Linked DNA regions of Homo sapiens: regions 2, 3, 4 and 5 are each linked to region 1. The links come from fine-mapping of genetic effects on gene expression. A gene starts in region 1. Each other region holds a variant in brackets. All regions are shown on one strand. Distances are from middle to middle.

The links. PIP is the estimated chance that this variant, and not a neighbour inherited with it, causes the effect.
Region 2: its variant is the best candidate, but not a certain one, in a credible set for the expression of MCM9 in whole blood (INTERVAL, PIP 0.81).
Region 3: its variant is the best candidate, but not a certain one, in a credible set for the expression of MCM9 in lung (TOPMed, PIP 0.71).
Region 4: its variant is the best candidate, but not a certain one, in a credible set for the expression of MCM9 in subcutaneous fat (GTEx, PIP 0.59).
Region 5: its variant is the best candidate, but not a certain one, in a credible set for the expression of MCM9 in whole blood (TOPMed, PIP 0.65).

Annotation. Positions count from the first base shown.
Region 1 is chr6:118,932,811-118,937,917 of GRCh38, forward strand. MCM9 (minichromosome maintenance 9 homologous recombination repair factor) reads right to left here and starts at 2,349. Exons shown (of 14, transcript NM_017696.3): 1 at 2,081-2,349. LOC124901389 (a long non-coding RNA gene) reads left to right here and starts at 2,105. Exons shown (of 2, transcript XR_007059729.1): 1 at 2,105-2,180. RefSeq lists silencers at 1,598-1,847, 2,098-2,527.
Region 2 is chr6:118,830,086-118,835,192 of GRCh38, forward strand. All of the region lies in intron 9 of MCM9 (minichromosome maintenance 9 homologous recombination repair factor), which reads right to left. Among named protein-coding and RNA genes, the nearest start is that of ASF1A, 62 kb to the right of the region's middle. The variant G/A (reference allele first, on the strand shown) is at 2,702.
Region 3 is chr6:119,049,820-119,054,926 of GRCh38, forward strand. The region is part of intron 1 of FAM184A (family with sequence similarity 184 member A); the gene reads right to left. Among named protein-coding and RNA genes, the nearest start is that of MIR548B, 17 kb to the right of the region's middle. The variant C/T (reference allele first, on the strand shown) is at 2,188.
Region 4 is chr6:118,761,922-118,767,028 of GRCh38, forward strand. No RefSeq gene overlaps it. Among named protein-coding and RNA genes, the nearest start is that of CEP85L, 110 kb to the left of the region's middle. The variant G/C (reference allele first, on the strand shown) is at 2,082.
Region 5 is chr6:118,861,620-118,866,726 of GRCh38, forward strand. All of the region lies in intron 8 of MCM9 (minichromosome maintenance 9 homologous recombination repair factor), which reads right to left. Among named protein-coding and RNA genes, the nearest start is that of ASF1A, 30 kb to the right of the region's middle. The variant C/G (reference allele first, on the strand shown) is at 2,582.

The DNA.
Region 1 (5,107 bases):
AAGTATTATTGAAAATAAATACAGCATATACCATTACTTTATCTCATTCCCCTGGCACTCTATTAAAAAGTATGTATCTACAGATAAAAAGCACCTATCCCCATTCTAGTTTCATGTATACAGACGGATAACAAATTACATATGTATAAACCCAATTCAATGTCCATTTCCTAATATCTATCATGTACAAGGCACTATGCTGGCAAATGAAAAGTATAGTAAAAGGTTCTCTATGTCCTCAGAAATCCAAGGGGCAAATAAAACGAAACAGTGCACTACCAGTGGTCAAAAATGCAATATGAATAGGAGTCAAAGGAGAGGGAGGTTAAATTTAAATGAGGTGACGATCTCAGAAGTAGCACTGGACAGTTAGAAACCAGCTGTCCAAATAAGAAACACTTATTTGGGGCCGGGCGCAGTGGCTCACGCCTGTAATCCCAGCACTTTGGGAGGCCGAGGCAGGTGGATCACGAGGTCAGGAGATCGAGACCATCCTGGCTAACACGGTGAAATCCCGTTCTCTACTAAAAAAAAATACAAAAAAAATTAGCTGGGCGTGGTGGCAGGTGCCTGAAGTCCCAGCTACTCAGGAGGCTGAGGCAGGAGAATGGCGTGAACCCGGGAGGCGGAGCTTGCAGTGAGCCGAGACCACGCCACTGCACTCCAGCCCGGGCACAGAGCGAGACTCCGCCTCAAAAAAAAAAAAAAAGAGAGAAACACTTATTTCGTTTGGAAAGAGATTGAGGACTGGAGAAGAGGTGTACTTAAATTTGACTTACTTCATTTGTCCAACATTTATTGTACTGGACTCTACAAATACGAATATTAAAGGAGACTGCTATAAAGTTCACAGTTTATCATCCTAAGTACGTGTTATACACGCTATTTGCTATATTTTGCTTTCTCTGAGAACCTACTATTCCGCAAGGTGTGAAACGTTTAAGAAGTACATATAGCAGTTAGGTCAAGAATCCTGACCACTATAGGAGGCCAGAGTGAGAGTAAGAATGAGTAAATGTATATCCAAAACAATGAGTGGAAATAAATTACGGCCTCCACGGTAATTTGTTTTTGGTTAAGCAATATAAATTCAGCCAAGTGTAAAGCAGAAAAAGCACTTGGGAAGGAATATCTCCACAATGTGGACTTTGCCCAAAAAAAAAAAAAAAAAAATCTGGACTCCCAACAGTGGCTACAAGAGAATCACTATGATTCTATTAAAGCATATTAAGTTTAGAGCCACAAATTTAGCAATTTGAAAAACAGCTCCACACAAGGCAGGAAAAGGGCAGCAGCAGAATTCAACGTTCAAATTAAGGTCAGATTAAATTTTGCCTAGTTAGGCTAGCATTTCTATGGTTATATGGACCATCGTTATTCATTCCCTTTCAACATCTATGCAAAACTGACTAATCAACTGTGTTATCAGCAGTTTGCTAAATCAATAAACGTACCTACTACCCACCCAGATAGACACTGGAGGGACTTTTTGTTTTGAGAAGGGTCATTTCACAACTTTCAAGTTCTCTTTCCTTTTCTTATTGAATATTTGGGGTCAAAATAAAATCATTTGCTTTACTTTGTCCTCTTGACCACAGCGAAGCGTCGAAAAGAAGACAGGAGAGTGCCTAACTGCACTGGCATCCCCCAGCTGTCTCCGGGAATCGCGGCAGCCCCGCCCCGCCCGCCTGCACCTGCCGGGAGCCCCGCCCCCTCCGCGCGGGCTGGCGGGACGCGCGCCCTCGGCCCCGCCCCACTCCCTCCGCCCCTCTCACTGCGGGGGCGCGCCATTTCGCGCCTCCGGGCCGCTCGGCTGCCCCAGGGGCGCCTGGCAAACGTGGAGTCGCTCGGTTTTGGAGGCATGCTTTCCAAACTTTCTAATTCACAGGGTCTTTGCACGCAGCCCCTGCCCCACAACACCTTGGCAGTCTCTGAGACTTCTGGGGCTCTTCTCCCGGGCAGCTCCCGTGCCTGTCCGGTCCCGGAGTTGAATAGTTTTTGAAGTAATGAGACGGGAACGAGACTTGGGACGAACTGGAGAAAAACATAACCGCGAAAGGAGGAGGCGGCTATCACTTACTGGCTGTGTCAGAAGTCGCCGGGAACGCGTTGCTCCCGAGGCCGAAGGGCCCAGAGAGCTCCAGCCAGGCAGCGGGTTCGTCTCCGGCGCAAGAAGGCTGGTGAGGCGGAGTGCGCGCGTGCACGTGGCCGCTCGAGGCGCCACCGGCCGCGGGGACGCGCGGGCTGTGTCGGGCGGCCTAGCGCCTGCGGCTCTGCCGGGCCTGCGCTCTCGACCGACGCCGGGCCGCGCACCGCCTCAACTTCCCTGCCCCGGCGGCTCTTCCGGATGGAGACGAGGCAGCGGGGCGGGGTGGAGCGGAGCGGGCGGATTGGGGCGGAGCCAGGAGGGTCCCGGGCGGGGAGAGGGGCGGGACCCGAGCAGTGACCTCAGGCTAAGTGGCCAGAGCAGGGTTGTGCGGCGGCTCAGATCGGATCTTAGGGTTTGTTTTTTGTCTGTCCAAGGAATTTGCCTAACCCAAGGCCACAGAGGATCTCTTCTGTGTTTTCTGACACAAGTTTTAGAATTTTAGGTTTTATATTGAGGTCTGTGATCCAATTAGAGCTAATTTTTGTCTGTGGTGCAAAGTATGGATCTTAGGTCATTTTTTTGTATGTGAATAGTGTCATTTGTTTAGAGAGCTTTCTTTTTCTCACTGAATAGCTTTTGCACCTATGTTTAAAATCAGTTGTCCCTAAAGCATCAGTTGTGGGTCTATTCTTAGACTTTCTATTCTGTTCCGACAATTTATTATATTTCTCTCTACAAAAATACCACATTGTCTTGATTCCTGTAGATTCGTAAGAGTCTTAAAATCAGATCGTGTTTGGCCTCCAATTTTTTGTTATTTTTCAAAAATGTTCTGGCTCATCTAGTCCCTTGGGTTTTCATATGAATGTTAAAATCAGCTTGTCACTTTAAAAAGTTGGGATTGTGATTGGTTACATTTCGTCTATAGATCCATGTAAGAATAATTTACATGTTAACAATATTTAGTAATGACCCTTAAAGTAAGCCTCTTCATTTATTTAGGTGTTATTTCACTCAGCAAATGTTTTGATCTTTTGTCAGGTCTAGTCTTATATAGTCCATTTTCACAGTGCTAATAAAGACATACCTGGGACTGAGTAATTTATAAAGGAAAGACGTTTAATTGACTTACAGTTCAGCATGGCTGGGGAGACTTCAGGAAACTTAAAATCATGGCAGAAGCGGGAGCAAACCTCCTTCTTCACAGGGCTGCAGGAAGGAGAAGTGAGGAGCAAGGAGGGAAAAGCCCCTTAGAAAACCATCAGATCTTGTGATACCTCACTCACTATCAGAGAACAGCATGGGAATAACCACCCCCATGATTCAGTTACCTCCCACCGGGTCCCTCCCACAACACCTGGGGATTATGGTAACTACAGTTCAAGATGAGGTTTGGGCAGGGACACAGCCAAACCATATCACCCTATGTCAGATTTATCCATAAATCTAAGGATGGGGGAAAAATATACTTCTTGATATTATGTAAATGACATTTTAAATTTTCAGTTGTTCTTTGATAGTGTCTTAGTCTGTGTTGCTAAAAAGGAATGCCTGAGACTGAATAATTTACAAATAAAAGAGGTTTATTTGGCTCACACTTCTGCAGGCTGCTTCTGGTGAGGGCTTCAGGCTGCTTCCACTCAGTGAAGGGGAGGCTGCCTGTGCAGATCACATGGCCAGAAGAGAAGCAAGAGAAAGGGGAGGTAGTGGTCAGGCTCTTTTTAACAATCAGCTCTGGAGGCAACTAACAGAATGAGAACTCATTATGCAATGGCAGCACTAAGTTTTCCTGAAGGATCTGCCCCTGTGACCCAGACACCCCCAACTAGGCCCCACACTTGGGATCAGATTTTAAGATGAGATTTGGAAGGGAGAAATACTCAAACTATGTCAGATAGTGTGTAAAAATATGATTGGGGGTTTTGTTGTTGTTGTTACAGGTTCTTGCTCTGTTGCTCAGGCTGGAGTGCAGTGGTGTGATCATGGCCCACTGCAACCTCTGTCTGCCAGGTTCAAGCAATCCTCCTACCTCAGCCCCCTAAGTAGCTGGGTGATATGGTTTGGCTGTGTGTCCCCACCCAAATCTCACCTTAAATTGTAATCCCCAGGAGTCTGGTGGGAGGTGATTGAATCATGGGGCGAACTTCCCCCTTGCTCTTCTCATGATAGTGAGTTCTCATGAGATCAGGTTTTTTGAAAGTGTCTGGCACTTCCCCCTCACTCATTCTCTCTCTCTGGCAGTTCCCCCTCACTCATTCTCCCTCTCTCTCCCGCTCTGCTATGGTAAGACGTGCTTGCTTCCCCTTTGCCATCTGCCATGAATATAAGTTTCCCGAGGCCTCCTAGTCATGCTTTCTATTAAGCCTGCAGAACTGTGAGTCAATTAAACCTCTTTTTGTCATAAATTGCCCAGTCTCAGGTAGTTTTTTATAGCAGTGTGAAAACAGACTAATACATTGGAATTATAGGTCTGTGCCACCACACCTGGCTAATATTTTGGTATTTTTTTGTAGAGATAGGGTCTCACTATGTTGCCCAGGCTGGTATAATTGAATTTTTAACATTAATCTTGTATTTGCAATTTTGTAAAAACCACTTATGAGTTCTAACAGCTTTTCTTGTGGATTTTGCTAGATTTTCTATATATTCAGGATTTGTTATCTATGAATAAAGACAGTTTTACTTCCTTTCTATTCTGGAGGCCTTTTATTTCTTTTTCTTGTCTTTTTGCACTGACTAGAAGCTTGAGTACGGTGTTGGATAAAAGTGATGAGACCAGACATCCTTTCTTTGCTTCTGATCTTAGAGGGAAAGTTATCAGTCTTTTACTCTTAAATATGGATGTTAGCCCAGGGTTTTTTGTAGATGCCCTTTATTAAGATGTAGGAAGATTTGAGCACTTTTATCAAGAATGAATGTTGGATTTCATTAAGGCTTTTCTACATGTGTGGAAATGATCACTTTGCTTTTTTTTTCTTTTAGTTTCATATTTTATATATAGATTGAATTGTGTCCCTC
Region 2 (5,107 bases), 100 kb before region 1:
AGGGATGGATGTGACATAACTTAGATATTGTTTTTAAACTAATTAATGATGGGCTAGTTCTCAAAATAATGTGACATATTCATTGGCAATAACAAATGTAAAAATTTGAATCTGTAAATTTGTATGCTGTGCACTTGATGCCCATTTTTAGTTATAGTGGGATGTCTGCCTCCCAAGTCACAGCCCTATGACATCAGCAACATGTATTACATTTGTTAATCCCTGATCTATTTCTAGCTAGCAGCTACTTCATTCCCTGAGGCTGAAAATGTTTGAGAATCTTTATTTGTGGCAAGTGGCACAAGAAGACACTGATTAAATAAATAAGAGAAAGATAAACAAGGCATTTTTACCAAAAACTAAATTCCCTTTTAAAAAATTAGTGACAAGGAAAAATTCTGGACAGTCCACATCTTATAATTTATGTGTCAAAATGGCTTTTGTAAAGACAGTTGTTTAGAACTTGGAATATAATTTGCCATAGAACAATGTAATAAGCGGTTCCTAAGTAACCCACAAAAGCACATTTAACCCACACTGAAGACGGACTATTTGTATTTCTTATTTAAAAATGTCCACAACACTGGCAATGAAACAAAATACAATTGCATATGACATAATTTTTATAAAATTATTTTTAATGCTAGGTCAAATGAATTGTTCATTCATCCTCTCTCTGACCAACCAATATTTATAGACCATTTCCTTTGTGCAAAAAGCTGTACTGAGAATCCAAAAAGGTACATATCTGATCTCTGCTGCCAATTAGTTTACAACAGAACTGCTGGGGAAAGAAGAGGTGGAGCAGAGTGCCTGCCAGATCGTAAGTGTGCAAGGAGTGCTGGTGTCAGTATCAGCATTAGTATCAGCAGGGAGAAACTTCGGTGGGGACACCTGGAGATCTATAGGGGATATAATTGGAGAGTTTTCCAATGTATGAGAAGAAAAATGAACACAGAAAGAAGGTGGTAAATTATGCCTAAGGTAACTGGGGGAATTAATTTTTCCATTAGAAAAGCTTAAGCTTAAGAATCATGCTGGTGGATCGCCAGAGCTCAGGAGTTTGAAACCAGCCTAGTCAACATGGTGAAACCCCATCCCTACTAAAAATACAAAAAATAGCCGGCACGGTGGTACACACCTGTGGTTCCAGCTGCTTGGGAGGCTGAGTTGGGAGAATCACTTGAGCCTGGGCGGTGGAGGCTGCAGTGAGCCGAGCTTGTGCCATTGCACTCACAAAGCAAGAGACCATCTCAAAAAAAAAAAAAAAAAAAAAGTTGGGGGTGGGGAGAACTAACAAAAATTTGTATGCAAAGAAAAAAGGCTGTCTGAGGTGAAGTCAGCAGAAATAGGAGCAAGGAAAATACGGGAGTGGGCAGAGGAAGAGGAGATTATGAGAGATAAGTCAGGCAGATCCCTGTAGCAAAGAGGGAGGATGAAGACAGTGCCAGGACAGACAGGGTGGTCTCTGGGCATTTGAAAGTGGGGAAGACCATATGTAAACCTGGTGGGTACAGACCTGTGATACAAACATTTTTTAAAAAAACTAAATGGGGCTTTAGAAAACAAACACAAATACATACATACAATCTAATCCTAAGTATACAGTGCGTAGTAGTGGCTCACTAAATACTAAATGAATGAATTCATAGACTGTAAGGTAACTCATTTTTCTATCCCATATGAACTCTACCTTCAACAATATTAATAAAAATAACTACATTTTTAATATCAAGCAAGCACTGCATTAGGTTTACAAAGATCATCCCTAATCACAGCAACCTGAAGGGTAGGTGCTATTATCACAAACTTAGAAATAAGGAAACTAGAAGTTCAGGAATATTAACTTCCCCAAGGTTACACTGAGAGGAGCAGAGCTGAGATTCAAACCTAGATCTGCTGGGCTCCAAAATCAATGCGCTTTTACTTCCAGACTGCCGATTCTGCCTGGGATTTTCGGCATCAACTTATTTGCCTTACTTATTTTTTTTAAAAGACATGGTCTCACTCTGTTCCCCAGGCTGTAGTGCAGTGGAGCAATTACAGCTCACTACAACCTCAAACTCCTGGGCTCAAGTGATCCTTCTGTCTCTGCCTATCAAGTAGCTAGCATTACAGGTGTACATCACCATGCCCAGCTGATTTTCAGAAAATTTTTTGTGGAGATGGAATCTTGCTATGTTGCCCAGGCTGGTCTTGAACTCCTGGCCCCAAGAATCCTCCCGCCTTGGCCTCCCAAAGGGCTGGGATTACAAGTGTGAGCCACCTTGCCCAGCCTATTTTTGTCCTACTAAATGTGGTCTTCCTTGAGAGATTGTGATTTATTGTTATAATCCTCACACTGCCTGGTACATAGTAAATGCTTAATAAATGTACATAATTTAAACGACAAATAAAAATAAATCTTTACTTAGTTCAGTATTTCTGAACTTCAGCATTATTTTACATTTACAGGCTTTGTCATAAAAGGATGCTGATACATATTTCTTTTGTATTAAACTTCAAGAAGTAAAGACATTCCAATTTCTGAAAAAACTACTTTTACATTTATTTAATGCACACATTTAAACGTCCTACAAACACAGTAGTAACTGTTCTACTAATAACTTGTGTAACCTAACATTGTAAAGTTATTTTTACCAGTAAAGACCCTTAAGAAAGTGCCCTTGTTTTTGTGAAGGTCTCCCATTACTCCCTTTAC[G/A]GGATGATCCTCATCTTTACTTATGGCTTTGATCACCACCTATATGCTGGTACTTCCAAATTTATCTCCAGCCTGTGGCACCAGGTGCTATATGTTCACCTAACCTTGTTTTCTTTCCATCCTGGGAATAGAGCAAGATTGTATTTCCTATTCCCATTACAGTGAAGTAGGGCTATGATACCAAGTCTGGACAATGAAGTAAAGATAGAAGAACATAAACCACTTTTAGGTCTGGCCCCTAAAAGCCTTCCTGTGCAATCTTTTTCTCTCTCTTTACTAGTGGAGTACAGAAGAGGATAAAGCCCTGGAGTCAGAGAGCCACATGAGAGAAGGAGCTTGGGCCCGGAATCATTGTCGGAGCAGAGCACACCACCCTCAATCCACATCAGACTGACACGAACAAGAAAAACTTCCTTCGGCAAAGCATTGCAGGCACGTGGTGAGCACAGGAAAAAACTGACCAATCTTCAAAGAGAAATGAAAAGCAATGAAGACATCTCAGAAATTTGAGGTTTTGAAGTGTTAGGGAAAAAAAATTGCTTCTAGACCCCAGACAGTAAGAAGCAAAATTGAAAAAAGCTTGAACAAAGGCCCAGTAAATTTTCTCAGTTGTATAAAGTCACTTAGATTGAGCATGAAATCTGCTTTAGATGGTGGTAAGGTAGCCACTGTTAAGTAATGAAGCCCACACCCATGTTCTCAGCAGCACTACACACACAACAGCTGAGAGGCGGAGAAAATCCAGGCGTACATAGATAAAGGAATGGATAAGGAAAACGCGGTCTATACACACAATGGAAAATTGTTCAGTCTTAAAAAGAAAGAAAATGCAAACACATACTACAACATGGAAGAACCTTAACTATATCATGCTAAGTGAAATAAGCCAGTTACGAAAGATCAATACTGTATGATTCCACTTACCTGTGAAATACCTAGAGTAGTCAAATCCATAGAAACGGAAAGTAGAATGGTGGTTGCTAGGGGCTGGGAGGAGGAGGAAATGGGAGTTTTTTTAAACAGGTATAGAGTTTCAGTTTGCAAGACGGAAAGAGTCCTGGTGATTGCTTGTACAACGTGACTTATACTTTTTAAAAATTATTATTATACCTTAAGTTCTGGGATATATGTGCAGAATGTGCAGGTTTGTTACATAGGTATACATGTGAAACGGTGGTGTGCTGCACCCATCAACCCATCATCTACATTAGGTATTTCTCCTAATGTTATCCCTCCCCTAGCCCCCCACCCAGTGTGTGATGTTCCCCTCCCCGTGTCCATGTTTTCTCATTGTTCAACTCCCACTTATAAGTGAGAACATGCAGTGTTTGGTTTTCTGTTCCTGTGTTAGTTTGCTGAGAATGACGGTTTCCAGCTTCACTCATGTCCCTGCAAAGGACACGAATTCATCCTTTATGGCTGCATAGTATTCCGTGGTATATATGTGCCACATTTTCTTTATCCAGTCTATCATTGATGGGCATTTGGGTTACTTCCAAGTCTTTGCTATTGTGAACACTGCTGCAATAAACATACGTGTGTATGTGTCTTTATAGTAGAATGATTCATAATCCTTTGGGTGTATACCCAGTAATGGGATTACTGGGTCAAATGGTATGTCGGTTATAGATCCTTGAGGAAATCGCCACACTGTCTTCCACAATGGTTGAACTAATTTACACACCCACCAACAGTGTAAAACAGTTCCTATTTCTCCACATCCTCTCCAGCATCTGTTTCCTGACTGTTTAATGATCACCATTCTAAATGGTGTGACATAGTACCTAATTGTGGTTTTGATTTGCACTTCTCTAATGACTACTGATGATGAGCTTTTTTTCACGTTTGTTGGCCATATAAATGTCTTCATTCCAAAAGTGCCTGTTCATATCCTTCACCCACTTTTTGATGTGGTTTTTTTTTTTCTTATAAATTTGTTTAAGTTCTTTGTAGATTCTGGATATTAGACCTTTGGCAGATGGACAGATTGCAAAAATTTTCTCACATTCTGTAGGTTGCCTGTTCACTCTGATGATAGTTTCTTTTGCTGTGCAGAAGCTCTTTAGTTTAATCAAATCCCATTTGTCAATTCTGGCTTTTGTTGCCATTGCTTTTGGTGTTTTAGTCATGAAGTCTTTGCCCATCCCTATGTCCTGAATGCTATCACCTAGGTTTTCTTCTAGGGTTTTTATGGTTTTAGGTCTTACGTTTAAGCCTTTAATCCATCTTAATTTTTGTATAAGGTGTAAGGAAGGGGTCCAGTATCAGTTTTCTGCATATGGCTAGCCAGTTTTCCCAACACCATTTATTACATGAGGAATAATTTCCCCATTGCTTGTTTTTGTCAGGTTTGTCAAAGATCAGATGGTTGTAGATGTGTGGGATTATTTCTGAGGTCTCTGTTCT
Region 3 (5,107 bases), 120 kb after region 1:
CAAAATTGACAAGTGGGATCTAATTAAGCTAAAGAGCTTCTGCACAGCAAAAGAAACTATCATTAGAGTGAACAAGCAACCTACAGAATGGGAGAAAATTCTTGCAAACTATGCATCTGACAAAGATCTAATATCCAGCATCTATAAGGAACTTAAATGTACAGGACAAAAACAACCCCATTAAAAAGTGGACAAAGGACATGAACAGACACTTTTCCAAAGAAGACATACATGCAGTGAACCAGCATACGAAAGAAAGGTCAATATCACTGATCATGAGAGAAATGCAAGTCAAAACCACAATGAGATACCATCTCACACCAGTCAGAATGGCAATTATTAAAAAGTCAAAAAACAACAAATGCTAGTGAGGTTACAGAGAAAAGGGAACACTTATACATTGCTGGTGGGAGTGTTAATTAGTTCAACCATTGTGGAAAGCAGTGTGGCAATTCCTCAAAGAGCTAAAAACAGAACTACCATTTGACCCAGCAATCCCATTACTGGGTATATACCCAGAGGAATATAAATCATTCCACCATAAAGACACATGCAGACGAATGTTCACTGCGGCACTATTCACAATAGCAAAGACATGGAATCAGCTTAAGTGCCCATTAATGACAGATTGGGTTTTTTTTTTAAAAAAAGGGTACATATACACCACAGAACACTATGCAGCCATAAAAAAAAAATGAGATCATAGGCCGGGCGCGGTGGCTCACGCCTGTAATCCCAGCACTTTGGGAGGCTGAGGCGGGTGGATCATGAGGTCAGGAGATCGAGACCATCCTGGCTAACAAGGTGAAACCCCGTCTCTACTAAAAATACAAAAAATTAGCCGGGCGCGGTGGCGGGCGCTGTAGTCCCAGCTACTCGGGAGGTTGAGGCAGGAGAATGGCGTGAACCCGGGAAGCGGAGCTTGCAGTGAGCCGAGATTGCGCCACTGCAGTCCGCAGTCCGGCCTGGGCGACAGAGCGAGACTCCGTCTCAAAAAAAAAAAAAAAAGAGATCATGTCTTTTGCAAGAATATGGATAGAGCTGGAGGCTATTACTATCCTTGCAAACTAACTCAGGAAAAGAAAACCAAATATCGCAGGTTTTCACTTATAAATGGGAGCTAAATGATGAGAACTCATGAACACAAAGAAGGGAACGCTGGGGCCTACCTGAGAGTGGAGGGTGGGAGGAGGGAAAGGAGCAGAAAAAATAACTGTTGGGTACTAGGCTTAACACCTGGGTGATGAAGTAAGTTGTACAACAAACACCTGTGACATGAGATTACCTACATAACAAACTCACACATGTACACCTGAACCTAAAATAAAAGTTTAAAAAAAGAAAATGTGGTACATGTACACAATGGAATACAATTCAGCCATAAAAAAGAATGAGACTCAGTCATCTACAACAACATGGATGGAACTGGAGATCATTAGGTTAAGTGAAATAAACCAGGCACACAAAGACAAAACACTACGTGTTCTCACTTATTTGTGGGATCTAAAAATCAAAACAATTGAACTCATGGACATAGAGGGTAGAATGATGGTTACTAGAGGCTGGAGAGGGTAGTGGGGTGTTAGGAAGAAGGAGGGATGGTTAATGGGTACCAAAAGAAAAAAATGAATAAGACTTACTATTTGATAGCACAGTAGGATAACTATAGTCAATAACTTAATTGTATATTTTAAAATAAAGACTATAATTGGATTGTTTGTAACTCAAAGGATAAATGCTTGAGAGAATAGATACTCCATTTTCATTGACATGCTTATTTCATATTGCATCAAAACATCTCATATACCCCATAAATATATACGAGTACTATGTACCCACAAAATTTTTTTTTAAAAAGAGAGTATCTTGCCAAAAAAGAAAAAAAAGAATATCCTGCTATTGGTTTGAGAGGTAAAGTAAGAGGTAAAATAAGAGGGCTATAATGTGTTATCTTGTCTGATCGCAGGACTCAAATACAGGTTTTTGAATAAGAACTTGGAAATTAATAAAAGTTAATGAGGTGAGTCAGGTAAGACTGGAAGATTATTTTATGCAACAGAAAATAAGCACTGTAGACTCTGGTTGTATTTGGTGAGAAATCCTCTTTGAAAAGCCAGAGCCTTCAGAGTCAGCAGCCATTGGAGGCCCAGGTTCCCAGACAGCAGTATCTATGTATGAGACTCAGGT[C/T]CTGAGCTGGGGTGCAGACTCCCTGAACATCTCCTGAGGTACGACTGCAGTCTCTCACATAGTGATCTCTATTATGTCAGTCCTTGAATGGACCTAATGTTCTGCCAATCACACATTCTCCTGTAATTCCTAAATTAGTTACCTAACTCAAGCATAATTCAAAGACTGAAAATAATTTCAATTAGCTATTTTGGATATAGACACCTACATTCTATTTTTTTCTTCATTTCTTCCTTTCACACCTAAATGTACTGTGAAAGAATGAAAAGATACAAATATGTTACCTAAGAGTTCCTCCATTATGTACTCTTCCCCTCCTCCTACCACAAAGTCATTATTAGATCCTAACAGTTCTACTTCCAAAATACATCATGATGTCTGCACTTACCTCTATTTCCATCACAACCACCCTAATGCAAGCCACCACCATCTGGCATTAGGCCTAGGACCATTGTAGTAGTCTCCTAACTGATCTTTCGGCTTCCCCTCATGCTGTGCCACAATTCATTCCTGAATCAGTAGCCAAAGTGGTCATCTCAAAACATAAATCATAACAGAACCCTTGCTTGCAGCCTGCCGATGGTTTCCCACCACACATGTACAGGAGGAAAAAAGTCAAACTCTTCTCTGTGGCCTTCAGAGTTGTATCTGATCTGATTCCCACTCCTGATTTAAGCTGGCAGCCACTTTCACCAAATGAATCAACAACCAACCACCAGAGGCAGGAGAGGAAGCAGCACTAGCTGAAAGAGGCCAGTATCACACAAGCTGTATAGGTAGAGGCTTTGTGCAAAACACATAAGGAATTTGAATTTCTAAATACACTGAGTTGTCTTAAAGGAAGGTACCCCAATATAATGAATCATCTAACAGTCAAGTTATAACATTGTGCCAAATTCAGTAAACACTCCTTTCTTTGTAGGTAATGTAGAACCAGTGAAGGGATTTAAGTAGAGGAATAACTTGATCTGACTTGCATTTTAGAAATTAAAATTCTGGTTGCACTGTGGAGGATGTATTAGATGAGATTTGATTAAAGAACAGCCAAAGGCATCGAAATACCTCAGGAAAAGAGCCCTGTGCTTCCTAACACAAACCTTGGGCTGGAGAACTGATACCTGACTGAAGAGCTATTTGGGTCATACATACACTCAGCAAGGGAAGCTGGTGGTTGCTTGAAAGTTAGGGGAGAGGTGCCCTCTCTCAGTTGTTGAGTCTGTTAATGAGGTCATGCACCTCTACAAACTTCATTCTATCTTCAATCAAGGTTTATACTTTACAAGTTATAGAGGACTTGTACAGCACCTGCTAACTGAAATTACTCACATACCCCCCAGACAGTGACCTGCTATTTCAGATAAACCTGAGCTGGAATGGGCTATTATAACTCAGGCACCTCTGACTCCTGTGTTTATAGCTCTGTTCTTAGGTCCTATCTTCCCAGCAAAGCAGGCACATCTAAAAACACATCACCCCAAATTTCTCTATGTAACAGCCTAACGCCAATTGTGCTTAACCACTTTTCTGCCCAATGACCAAGGGGATATTACACTTCCATTAATACCTTTTGATCACTATGGCAATATTTTCAATTTAGGGTAGAGGTAGGATGTAGTATAAGAATCACTAAGTGGCCCTTTAAAAAGACTACACATTCATTCCCATTCTCCATCCTATGGCCACCCACACACCCACAAAGGGAGGTAACTGAGTGGAAAAATGATTGACAACCACCTGCTTTACTAAATACAAAGATAAGGGCCAATAAAATTAATTCAGTTATTAGAATATTATGCCAACCTGTTTTTAAGAATTCTGAAACAGAGTAGTATTATCCCAAACAGAATTCTTAGAGAAGCGTCTGTGTTTTAAAATACTTTTCTGTTGTTTCCTATGGTGATAAACATTTTCAAGTCCCAATCTACTTCTCAGCAGGCACTACACATAGTTTAATGAGACGAATATTACGATGTGCTCCCTACTGAGAAAATCTCAGTGCCATAATAAAAGGATATGAAGTTAATGTAATGAAGTTTTAAGAAAAAACCTTAAAGTTCTCAACATTCAAATCCTTTAGAGAAAAAAAAAAATCATATATAATTTAATGACAACCTTCCCAATACATTTATCTTTCTACTATCCCATCTCCACTATTTTTTACAGAAAACGAAAACACTGTATGTAACCCTAAAAGGGAAGCTGAAATAAATGACTGAATTACAATCAAAATGAATCACGCTAGCTTAGCAATTATATACAATAATTCAGAATTGTTTTAGTCTGTTTGGGCTGCTATAACAAAAATACCATAAACTAGGTAGCTTATAAACAACAGAAATTTATCTCTTACAGTTCCAGAGGCTGGAAAGTCCAAGATCATCAGCAGACTGGGTGGCAAGGGCCTGTTCCGTAGTGATGGTGCCTTCTATGTGTTCTCACATGGCAGAAGTGGCAAATAAGCTCCCTTGGACCTCTTTTATAAGGGAAGTAATCCATTCATGAGGGCTCTTTCCTCATGACCTTAGCACCTCCTCAAGGCCTCACCTCTTAATTCTATTACACTGGGGATTAGATTTCAACATATGAAGTTTGGGGGACATAAACATTTAGACAAGAGCAAGAATTTCCTAAAGTGTGACATAAGAAGGGACTTTAGGTAATCAATATTTTTATTTGATATGTATGCATTTATCTTAACCGTCACTAAACCTAAGTGGCCCACCAAATCTGTGAAGTTATATGTTACTGCTTAGGATAAAATTAAAGTAGGCAGAGAAATTCACATAGACTTCTTGCCTTATAGGTCCTATACTCAGGAATATTCACGCTTTGAGTCTTGAGTAACTGAGCCTTGTGACAATTTTTTTTTAATAACAGCTTTGAGATATAATTTATGTAACATAAAATTCACCCCCTTTAA
Region 4 (5,107 bases), 170 kb before region 1:
GAGGCATTAAGGGAAATCTGAGTAGAACTTCTGGTTGTTAAGACATGAAAGGCTCCGAGGGAGAGGTGGAGGGAACCTCTCTATTCTTCAGCCACATCCTTATCCTAGGTCAGAAGTGGCCTATCCTTGAAGCATAGGAAGGGTTTTCCCTCCTGAAAAGAAAGAAAACTCATTCCGCCCCCCTCCTTTTTTTTTTTAAATAATTTCAACTTTTATTTTAGATTCAGAGGTACATCTGCAGGTTTGTTACATAGGTATACTGCAAGATGTTGAGGTTTGGGGTACAAATGATCCCATCACCAAGGTACTGAGCGTGGTACTCAAAGGGCAGTTTTCAGCCCTTGTCCCCTCCCTCCATCCAGCCTCTAGTAGTCCCCAGTGTCTGTTGTTCTCATCTTTATGTCCATGTGTACTCATAGCTCCCACTTGTGAGTTAGAACATGTGGTATTTGGTTTTCTGTTCCTGTATGAATTCACTTAGGATATCAGGCTCCTGTTGCATCTATGTTGCTGCATAGGACATGATTTCATTCTTTTTTTGTTTTTGAGACGGAATTTCACTCTTTTTGCCCAGGCTGGAGTGCAATGGTGCAATCTCGGCTCACTGCAACCTCCGCTTCCCGGGTTCAAGCAATTCTCCTGCCTCAGCCTCCCAAGTAGCTGGGATTACAGGCGCCTGCCACTACACCTGGCTAATTTTTGTATTTTTAGTAGAGACAAGGTTTCACCATGTTGGCCAGGATGGTCTCGATCTCTTGACCTTGTGATCCACCCGCCTGGGCCTCCCAAAGTGCTGGGATTACAGGCGTGAGACACCGCGCCTGGCCAATTTCATTCTTTTTATGGCTGCATAGCATTCCATGTGTATATGTGCCACATTTTCTTTATCCAATCCATTGTTGATGGGCACCTAGGCTGATTCTATGCCTTTGCTACTGTGAATAGTGCTGCGATGAACATACGAGTGCATGTGTCTTGGAAACTCCTTTTTCATACATCTTTTCTTTTGTTTGGGACACTGGACTGAGACTGTGATGCCTGGAATTTTGAAAAACATATTGTGATCATGAGGTGGCAAGCAAGAGGACCAAAGTCAACACATTAAAGGTAGCAGAATGGAAGGAGGGAAAGAGGCTGGATCCTTTGTTGACAATGTTAGGTAATTAAATCTTTATTGCCTAAACAACTATTAGCTATTCTGTAACCTGCAGCCAAAAGCCTTCCTGATTAGAGATAACAGTTGTCTAGTAAAGTTAAAAAAAAAGCTTAAGACCCAGAAATTCTACTCATAGGCACAAACCCTAAATAATCCACAAATATTGATAAATGTTTAGTTTTGATATTTTCTTTATTACAAACACTCTTTGTAATCAAGTGAGAAATAGCAAACAGAATAACCCCAATGCATTAGAGACTTCCAGGGTAGCTTCCATTGGTATCAAAATAACTCAGAGAGCCACTTTCCTTTTTGATGCTGGTTACCATCATTTACAAAGTGCACCGATGTGCACAACCCTGGATTCAAGGTTTATATAAGTATCACTCCTAACAATTCTCTATTTCTCACAATCCTTAATTTTCAAAGATAGGTTACAAGATTGTAATATTTTCGCCCTATTCTCAGAAAGGGTGTGTGTTTCAAAACCACAAACCTTTCCCAAGTTCAGATATCAAGGCATATAGGAAACTACAAGGTAACTCAAGTTTTTAAAAAGAAAGGAGATGGGCGAGAGCGCTGGTTGTATAGGCAATCAAAACAGCCTTCCCTCTAAATCTAGGGCCAGAGAAAGATTGGATATAATTAATTTTTTCCTTCTTCAGGAAGGATTTCTCCAGTGTCTTTTTTTTTTTTTTTTTTTTTTTGAGATGGAGTCTTGCTCTGTCACCCAGGCTGGAGTGCAGTGGCGCCATCTCGGCTCACTGCAAGCTCCGCCTCCCGGGTTCACGCCATTCTCCTGCCTCAGCCTCAGGAGTAGCTGGGACTACAGGTGCCTGCCACTGCGCCCGGCTAACTTTTTGTATTTTTAGTAGAGACGGGGTTTCACCGTGTTCTCGATCTCCTAACCTCGTGATCCGCCCGC[G/C]TCGGCCTCCCAAAGTGCTGGGATTACAGGCGTGAGCCACCGTGCCCAGCCTTCTCCAGTGTCTTAAAAGTAACATTTCTTACATAGACTTCAAAGTGAAAATTACAAAACCTTTTTGGATCTCTGTGCTAAAGGAATTATGTAGAAAAGTGTTAATGCTGGAAAACAATATTCACTGAAAACTTGGATTTCTTTCCAGAAATTGTTTTATCTTAATTACTTTTGCAGTGGGATCTCACTTAGTGAAGTCTTAATTGACAAAGCTCATGAATTTTCCTTAGGGAAATGACTTGTGGCCAATAAAAAGAAGCAATATGTAATAAGCATCGTGCCCCAGCATTCGGCTCAGGTACTAACTATGAGAACAGTAACTCAAGCAAGCATCACTGTGAGGCTTTATTGAGTCACAGCTAGATGCTTCCAAAGGGGAAGCTAAACATTCTTCAAAACCTATAAAGCCTTGATTAAATATATGGTCTGCATTGTATTTGGAGGCTGAATATTGTAGTATAATATAGCATACCACTGTGGTATAATGCTGTAGTATATAGTATAGTATACTATCTAGTAGTAATAAGGGGTAAAAATGTAATGTGTTCTGAATTAGCATGGATTTTTATCTTTGATTTTGGATCTTTTGCTCTGAATAGCAAAAATCAAGGGTGTTCTATTATGGTTTTAAATGGCTTTTATACCTCCTAAAATGTGATCCCATTATTTTAGGGTTTCACATCTAAAATAGGCCTCTTTCTCTTGCAGTTTACTCAGACACTCCTATCTTTCGAATTTTTTAAATTACACTTGGAATCTGGAAATAATGTCTAGCCCCTTTTAGAATGAATTCCAGTTTAAAATAAATGATTACACTCAAGAGAAAGAAATCTGTTGAGCAATGACAATGAATTTGTTTTGCGCTGCAGTCAGGTGCCCAGTATTTTGACAAATGCTGGTTCATAGAACACAGCTTCCCGTGCATGGAGAGTTCCTGTTTCTGGCCATGCAGAGGGATCTGTGGTGGTGTCACTCACTGAAGAAACACTAAAGGAAGAACAGATTTGGGGGTAAAATTCACAAGCTTCAAAAGTATTGAGGTTGAATAGTCTTTTTTATATCCTTGTAGAGACTCCAGTAGGCAGGTTAGTAACCAGGTTGGAGTAGAGAGATGTCTGGGAGAACTATTTACACTGGAAGTTTCCCATATCCCAGGCAGAATGGATCATACCTTCTCCTGTGCTCCCATATCTTTTTTCATCCAAATGGTATTGGTTGGCCTCTGCCATTGTAAGTTTTCCTTTCTCTGTCTTTTATTCTATGTATTAGTCCAGAATCTATAAGGAACTTAAACAAATCAACAAGTAAAAAACAAATCTCCCATAAAATTCGGCAAAGGGCATAAACAGACACTTCTCAAAAGAAGACATACAAGCAGCCAACAAACATATGAAAAAATGCTCATTGTCACTCATCATCAAAAAATGCAAATCAAAACCACAATGACACAATGAGATACCATCTCACACCAGTCAGAATGGCTTTTATTAATAAGTCAAAAAAAAGAACATATACTAGCAAGGCTGCGGAGAAAAGAGAAGGCTTATTCACTGTTGGTGGGAATGTAAATTAGTTCAGCCACTACAGAAAGCAGCTTGGAGATTTCTTAAAGAACTTAAAACAGAGATACCATTTGACCTAGCAATCCCATTACTGTGTATACCCAAAGGAATATAGATCATTGTACCAAAAAGACACATGAACTCGTATATTCATTGCTGTTCTATTCACAATAAAAAAGGCATGGAATCAACTAGGTGCCCATCAATAGTGGATTGGATAAAGAAAATGCGGTACATATACACCATGAAATACTATGCAGATGGAAAAAAGAATGAAATGATGTCCTTTGCAGGAACGTGGATGGAGCTGGAGGCCATTATCCTAAGCAAATTAACATAGGAACAGAAAACCAAATACTACATGTCCTCACTTGTAACTGGGAGTGAAACATTGAGCACACATGGACATAAACATGGGAACAATAGACACTGTGGACTATTAGAGGCACGAGGGAGGGAGAGGGGCGTGGATTGAAAAACTACTGTTGGGTGCTATGCTCATTACCTGGGTCCAATATCCCCATGTAACAGTCCTACACTGGTACCCCCCATATCTAAAATTAAAGCTGAAATTTTAAAACAAAAAAACAACCAAATTACCACAAATTCAGTAGCTTAAATCAACACTATTTATGTTATAGTTCTGGAGGTCAGAAGTCCACAATGGGGCAACAGTCTGGTTCCTTGTGAAGACTTCAGGGACAATCTGTTTCTCTGTCTTTTCTAGTTTCTAGAGGCCGCCTCTATCCCTTGGTTTATGTCCCCTTATCACGTCGACCTCTGTCTCTGTCATCACATCTCCTTCTCTGACTTGGGCCCTTCTGCCTTTCCTCTGTAAAGACCCTTGTGAATATATTAGGCCCATGCAGATAATTCAGGAAAAATCTCATCATCTCAAATTCCTTGATTTAATTGCATCTGCAAAGTTGCTTTTGCTATGCAAAGAAACATAGTCACAGGTTCTGGGAACTAAGATGTGGACATCCTTTAGGGGCCATTGTTCTGCCTCCCACACCTTATCTACTTGGTTATTTGTAAGTCTAGATAAGCTTCCCTGCTCTGGGGTCCTAACTGACTCAGTTTGCATCCTCCCTCTGTGTTCAACATAGTACATGGTAGGCACTCCGCACATATTATTGGAACTTACTAAAGAGCCCAGGTATGGGGTGAGGCGCTAGACTAGAATGATAGTGTTAGGGGGAAAGGAGGCTAGAGAGGACGTTTGTGGCATCTGAAGGAACCAGCGATAAGACCCTCTCTGTGCCAAGAATCAGTGATGAAAGACTGAGCTGACTGGAGGACTGTGTCCTGTCTCGATGACGGGGATGGGACTAGGAGCAGGCATGAACCAAGGTAGTTGAATGAAATGCTTTAGAAAGTACTTGCCCTCCTGATGTGCCTCATGTGTGCCTC
Region 5 (5,107 bases), 71 kb before region 1:
GACCTATAGTGGGTAGCTCCTTTCTGCAGGCAGGTTGACCTGATGAGTGTGTGCATCTGGCTGGGTCTGGGGTTTTTGTGGGCTCAGAAGGGAGGAAGTGCATGCTGACTGGTCCACGGGTGGACCTGGAAAAAGCACCATAAGTTCTCACTTCAGGTTGTGGACTCCATCCAGAACCGGCAGCCTAGCCCTCAGGCTTCAGGCTGTCCCTGGCTTGAAGGTGGGGCTTCACCAGTGACCCACCCCTTCCTGCCTAGGAATGAATCTGCCTGCTTCCTGCCACCATCAACATGCCATCCATGTTGCCCAGGCTGTTCAGGATGAGGGAGGCCTGTAGGCCCATGCTGAGCTACCTTCAGCCCCCCGACATCCTCCCTCCCTGAGCTTGTCAGCACCCACAGTTTCAGAAGGAGCCAAGGCAGTGGGGTGGCACCCCTGGCCAGGTCACAAGAGTGTTCAGGCTTGGCTTCAACTTTGCTCTGAAATTGGAGTGACAGTCAGGAGTGGGGAAAGGCCAGGGAGCAGGAAAAGGTACTTCCAAGCCTTCAGGGGAAGGGGGGCTTCCTGGGCCCCCAAGAGTGCAGGGATGCCTAGGTCCAGAGCCATGGCTGGGTGGCTGTAGCTTCACCTGGGTGTGTGGGGAGCCAACTTGGTAGCAGGCAGGGCTCTCACCTGTTCCTGGCCCCTGCCAGCTCCATGGAGCGTACAGCCCTGGCCACACCTCCCACACTGCAGCTGGCATCCCCTCAGCAGTTGCTCCAAATGGGCTGATGCCACCATCAATTGTAACATATAATGAAATAATTATACAACTCACCCTAATGTAGAATCAGTGGGAGCCCTGACCTTATTTTCCTGCACCTAGACAGTCCCATCTGGGGATGATGGGAGACAGTGACAGATCATCAGGCATTAGATTCTCATAAGGAGTGCACAACCTAGATCCCTCACATGCACAGTTCACCATAGGGTTCATGCTCCTATGAGAGTCTCATGCTGCCACTGATCTGACAGGAGGCAGAGCTCAGGTGGTAATGCGAGCAATGGGGAGCAGCTATAAATAGAGACATAGCTTCGATTACTTGCCTGCCGCTTACCTCCTACTGTGCAGCCCGGTTCCTAACAGGCCATGGTTGGGAACCCTGCTATACAGGACCAAACATAAGAAGTACATCTGACATCTCCTCAGAAACCATGCAAGCAAGAAGACAGTAAAGTGAAATATTTAAAGTGCTAAAAGAGAAAAATCCCAACACAGAATTTTGTACCCTGAAAAATTATCCTTTCAAAGTAAAAGAGAAATAAAGACTTTCTCAAAGATTGAAGAAATTTATTACTAGTAGACCTGCCTTGCAAGGAATGTTAAAAGAAGTTCTTCAGAGAAAAGGAAAATGACATAGGTCAGAAACTCAGATCTATACAGAGAAAAGTAGAGCATTAGACAAAAAAAACCTGAAAGATAAAAACTTTTATTTTCTTATTCTTAATTGATCTAATAGACAACAGTTTGTCTAAAATATTAATAGAAACAACGTATTTAATTGTATATGCATAGGTATATATACATGTTTAATTATGCTTATGTATAAGTGAAATGAATGAGATGAAAGATCTAAGGACAAGGAGAAATTAGGAATATTCTGTCATTACGAGGTACTTACACTACCTGTGAACAGGTATAGTGTTATTTTAAAATGGACTTAGAATAGTTGTAAATGCATATGCAAACTCTAGGGCAACCACTTTAAAAAAAGTTTTTAAAAAGGCATATAATTGATATGCTAAGTGAGGAGAGAAAATGGAATCATAAAAACTGCTCAAAACCATAAAAGGCATAAAAAGCATCAAAGACAAAAATAGGGACAAAGAACAAGGGCAACAAATAAAAATAGTAACAAATATGGCACATGTTATGGTCTGAATGTTTGTCCCCCTGGCCCTAAAGCTCATATTAAATCTTAATCCCCATCATAACAGTATTAAGAGGGTGGGAAATCCAACTATGGTATTTGAGAGGTGGGACCTTTGAAAGGTAATTAGGATTAGATGAGATCATGAGGATGGGGCATTAGTGGCTTTAAAAGAGAAGTAAGAGTTAACACACTCAGGCCCCTTGCCATGTAATGTCTTCTACCACCTCAGAACTCTGCAGAGAGTCCTCATCAGCAAGAAGGCCTTTACCAAATGTGCCACCTCTACATTGTACTTCCTAGCATCCAGCACTCTAAGAAATAAATCCCTTTTTTTTATAAACTACCCAGTCTTAGGTATTTAGTTATAACAACAGAAAACAAACTAACTAAATATTAATCCACCTCTATCAATAATCACCTTAAACATCAATGTTCTAAATATATCAATTAAGACAGAGATTGTCAGAATTGATTTAAAAAAAAAAAAAGACCCAACTATAAGATGTTTACACAAAACCCATATTTCATTTTATTTTTTATTTCAATAGTTTTTGGGGTACAGGTGGTATTTTGGTTATGTGGATGAGTTCTTTAGTGCTGATTTCTGAGATTTTGGTGCCCCCATCATCTGAGCACTACACACTGTACCCAATAAGCAGTCTTTTGTC[C/G]CTCACCCCACTCCCACCATTCCCCGAGTCCCCAAAGTCCATTATATCATTCTCATGCTTTTGCGTCCTCACAGCTTAGCTTCTACTTGTAAGTGAGAACAAACAATATTTGAAAACCCATACTTTAAATATAAAGACACGTACAGATTAAAAGTGAAAGGACAGAGAAAGATTTATCACTCCAACAATAATCATTAAAAAGCAGGAGGTAAGAGGTAGTGATGCCAGCAACATGGCAGAACAGGAAGCTCCTGACTCTCCCTCCACCCACAAAAGCACCAAATAAACATCTATTCACGAATCAGTTCCCTCCGAGAGAAAGTCAGGGACCAGCTGAGAGACTCCTACACACTGGGCGACTAAGAAAATTTCCACATCAAATGGGAAGGAAAAGCTGAGGCATAGGACCCTGCCTTAGACACTGCTCCACATTATCTGGAAAGGACTCCCTAATATCAAGCTTCTTCCTGTGGAGAAGAGGATTTGTACTCACATGTAGAACCCTAACTCTAAGGTTTCCCATGGTCTGGTTCTTAATTCACCGGCTCTGAGAACAAAGAGGATTAAACACCCAAGACTCTCTAGACCACAATAAAATTGTGGTGGTTTGCTATGGGCACTCGAGTACTTCTGGGGCTTCATCCCCCAAGAGCAGTGCAGAGAAGGGGCCTAAAATATGCAGCCCCTTCTTTCTGCCTGGAAGGAATCTATAACACACTCTTCTGGTGGCTACATGCCTGCTTGTCTTCTAACGAACTTGCTTCAGGAAGTTAAAGAGGCAGACAAATATAGCTTGGCTGACAGCCTAAGAAGTGGACCGGCACTTCTTGAGTCTTCTCCCCTGGCTCATGCCAGAGGTAACTCCAGGTTTATTAATCTCTCATGGAAGAGAGTCTGACTGTATATTGAGCACCCACAATTTTACAGCTCCCACTCAACGGACTGTGTCCTAAACTTCCTATCTCTGAAACCAGAGGGAACAAAGTATATGTGAGTCTATCTGCACCACAGAAAAAAGTGCCAGTTTTATATGGGCATGTAGGCATTTCAGGGACGTCATACCATAGGGGCAGTGCAGAGAAGGGGCTTTAAAAACAGCTATTTCTCCTCAAATGGGGTTTATGCCACATATCAAGTGCTCCAACTTTTATAGCACCTCCCTAAATATTCCCTCTCTAAACTACTCTTAGCTCTGACAGCAGAAGATAGTAGGCATATGTGAGTCTCCTTAGATCACAGAACAAAGGGGTGGTCTTGAACAAGTGTGCAAACACTTCTAACGGCTACATCCCCTTGGAAAAGTCCCAAAAAGGGGTGAAAACATGTAGCTTCCATCTTCTCTCCAGAAGGGGCTTATAACATACTTCAAGTGGTCATTTGACAAGCTGGCTTCTAATGGACTTGCACTGGGGAGCTAACAGGGCAAACAAATAGCTCTGCAGCAGCCAAAACAGAGCTTGACACTTCATGATCCTTTCCTTTGGCTTACCCCTATGATAAATCTAGGCCTCCCCCATTCTACGTGAAAAAAGTCTGATTACACAGCAAGTGCCATAACTTCTATAACTTCCACCCAAGGTAATGTCTTCTTAACAAACTAGCTCTGGGAGTTGATGGGACTTTGCATTCTTGAGTGGTCCTAGATCCAAGAAAAAAAGAGGTGGACATACAATGGGCCCACATCCAGCAGCTATCTCCCCAGGATCTGAGGGCACAGCCTAAACATGAGTTCAGACATTTGCCATAGATCCTCTACCTGGCTTAGCACAGAAAGAGTGGGAAATAGACACCCACATTCAGCTTCACCATGAAGATGGAAGTAATTGAAACACATAGCCAACACCCCAATCTTTCCAGCTACATCTAAGATAATCTGGCTCCTAACTTCCCTGTCTTGAGGTACTGGCAGAACATGGCACATCTTAAGCTCCACAGTGCAACCCTAAACAGAGACAACAGTCTGGATGAACTCGAATATTTGAGAGGCACCTTAAAATCTTTGGCCAGACAGATTAGTGAGAACTTTCTCCTACATGAGACAAGTCTGACAAGACTGGGAGAGGTAGTTGTCTTATCTAATACACAGAAACCAAAATAGAGAGTCATGGAAAATGAAGAAACAAGGAAATACATTCCAAAGAAAAGAATATGGTAAATCTCTAGAAACTAACTGAAGTGAAGTGGAGATATGTGATGTACCTGAGAGAAAATTCAAAATAATGGTCAAAAAGATGCTCACCAGGGTCAACAGAGCAATGCAAGAAAAAAATGAGAACATCAACAAAGAGAAAGCATAAAATTATCAATTGAAAATCATATATCTGAAGAGTACTATAACTTAACTGAAAAATTCAAGAGAGGGGTTTAAGAGTAGGTAAGATCCAGTAGAAGAATAGATTGGTTAACTTGAGACAGGTTACTGGAAATCATCCAGTCTGAGGAGAAAAAAGAAAAGAAAAAGTGAAGGTAGCTCAAGCAATTTATGGGGCACCATCAGGTAAAACAACTTACGTATTATTGGCATGC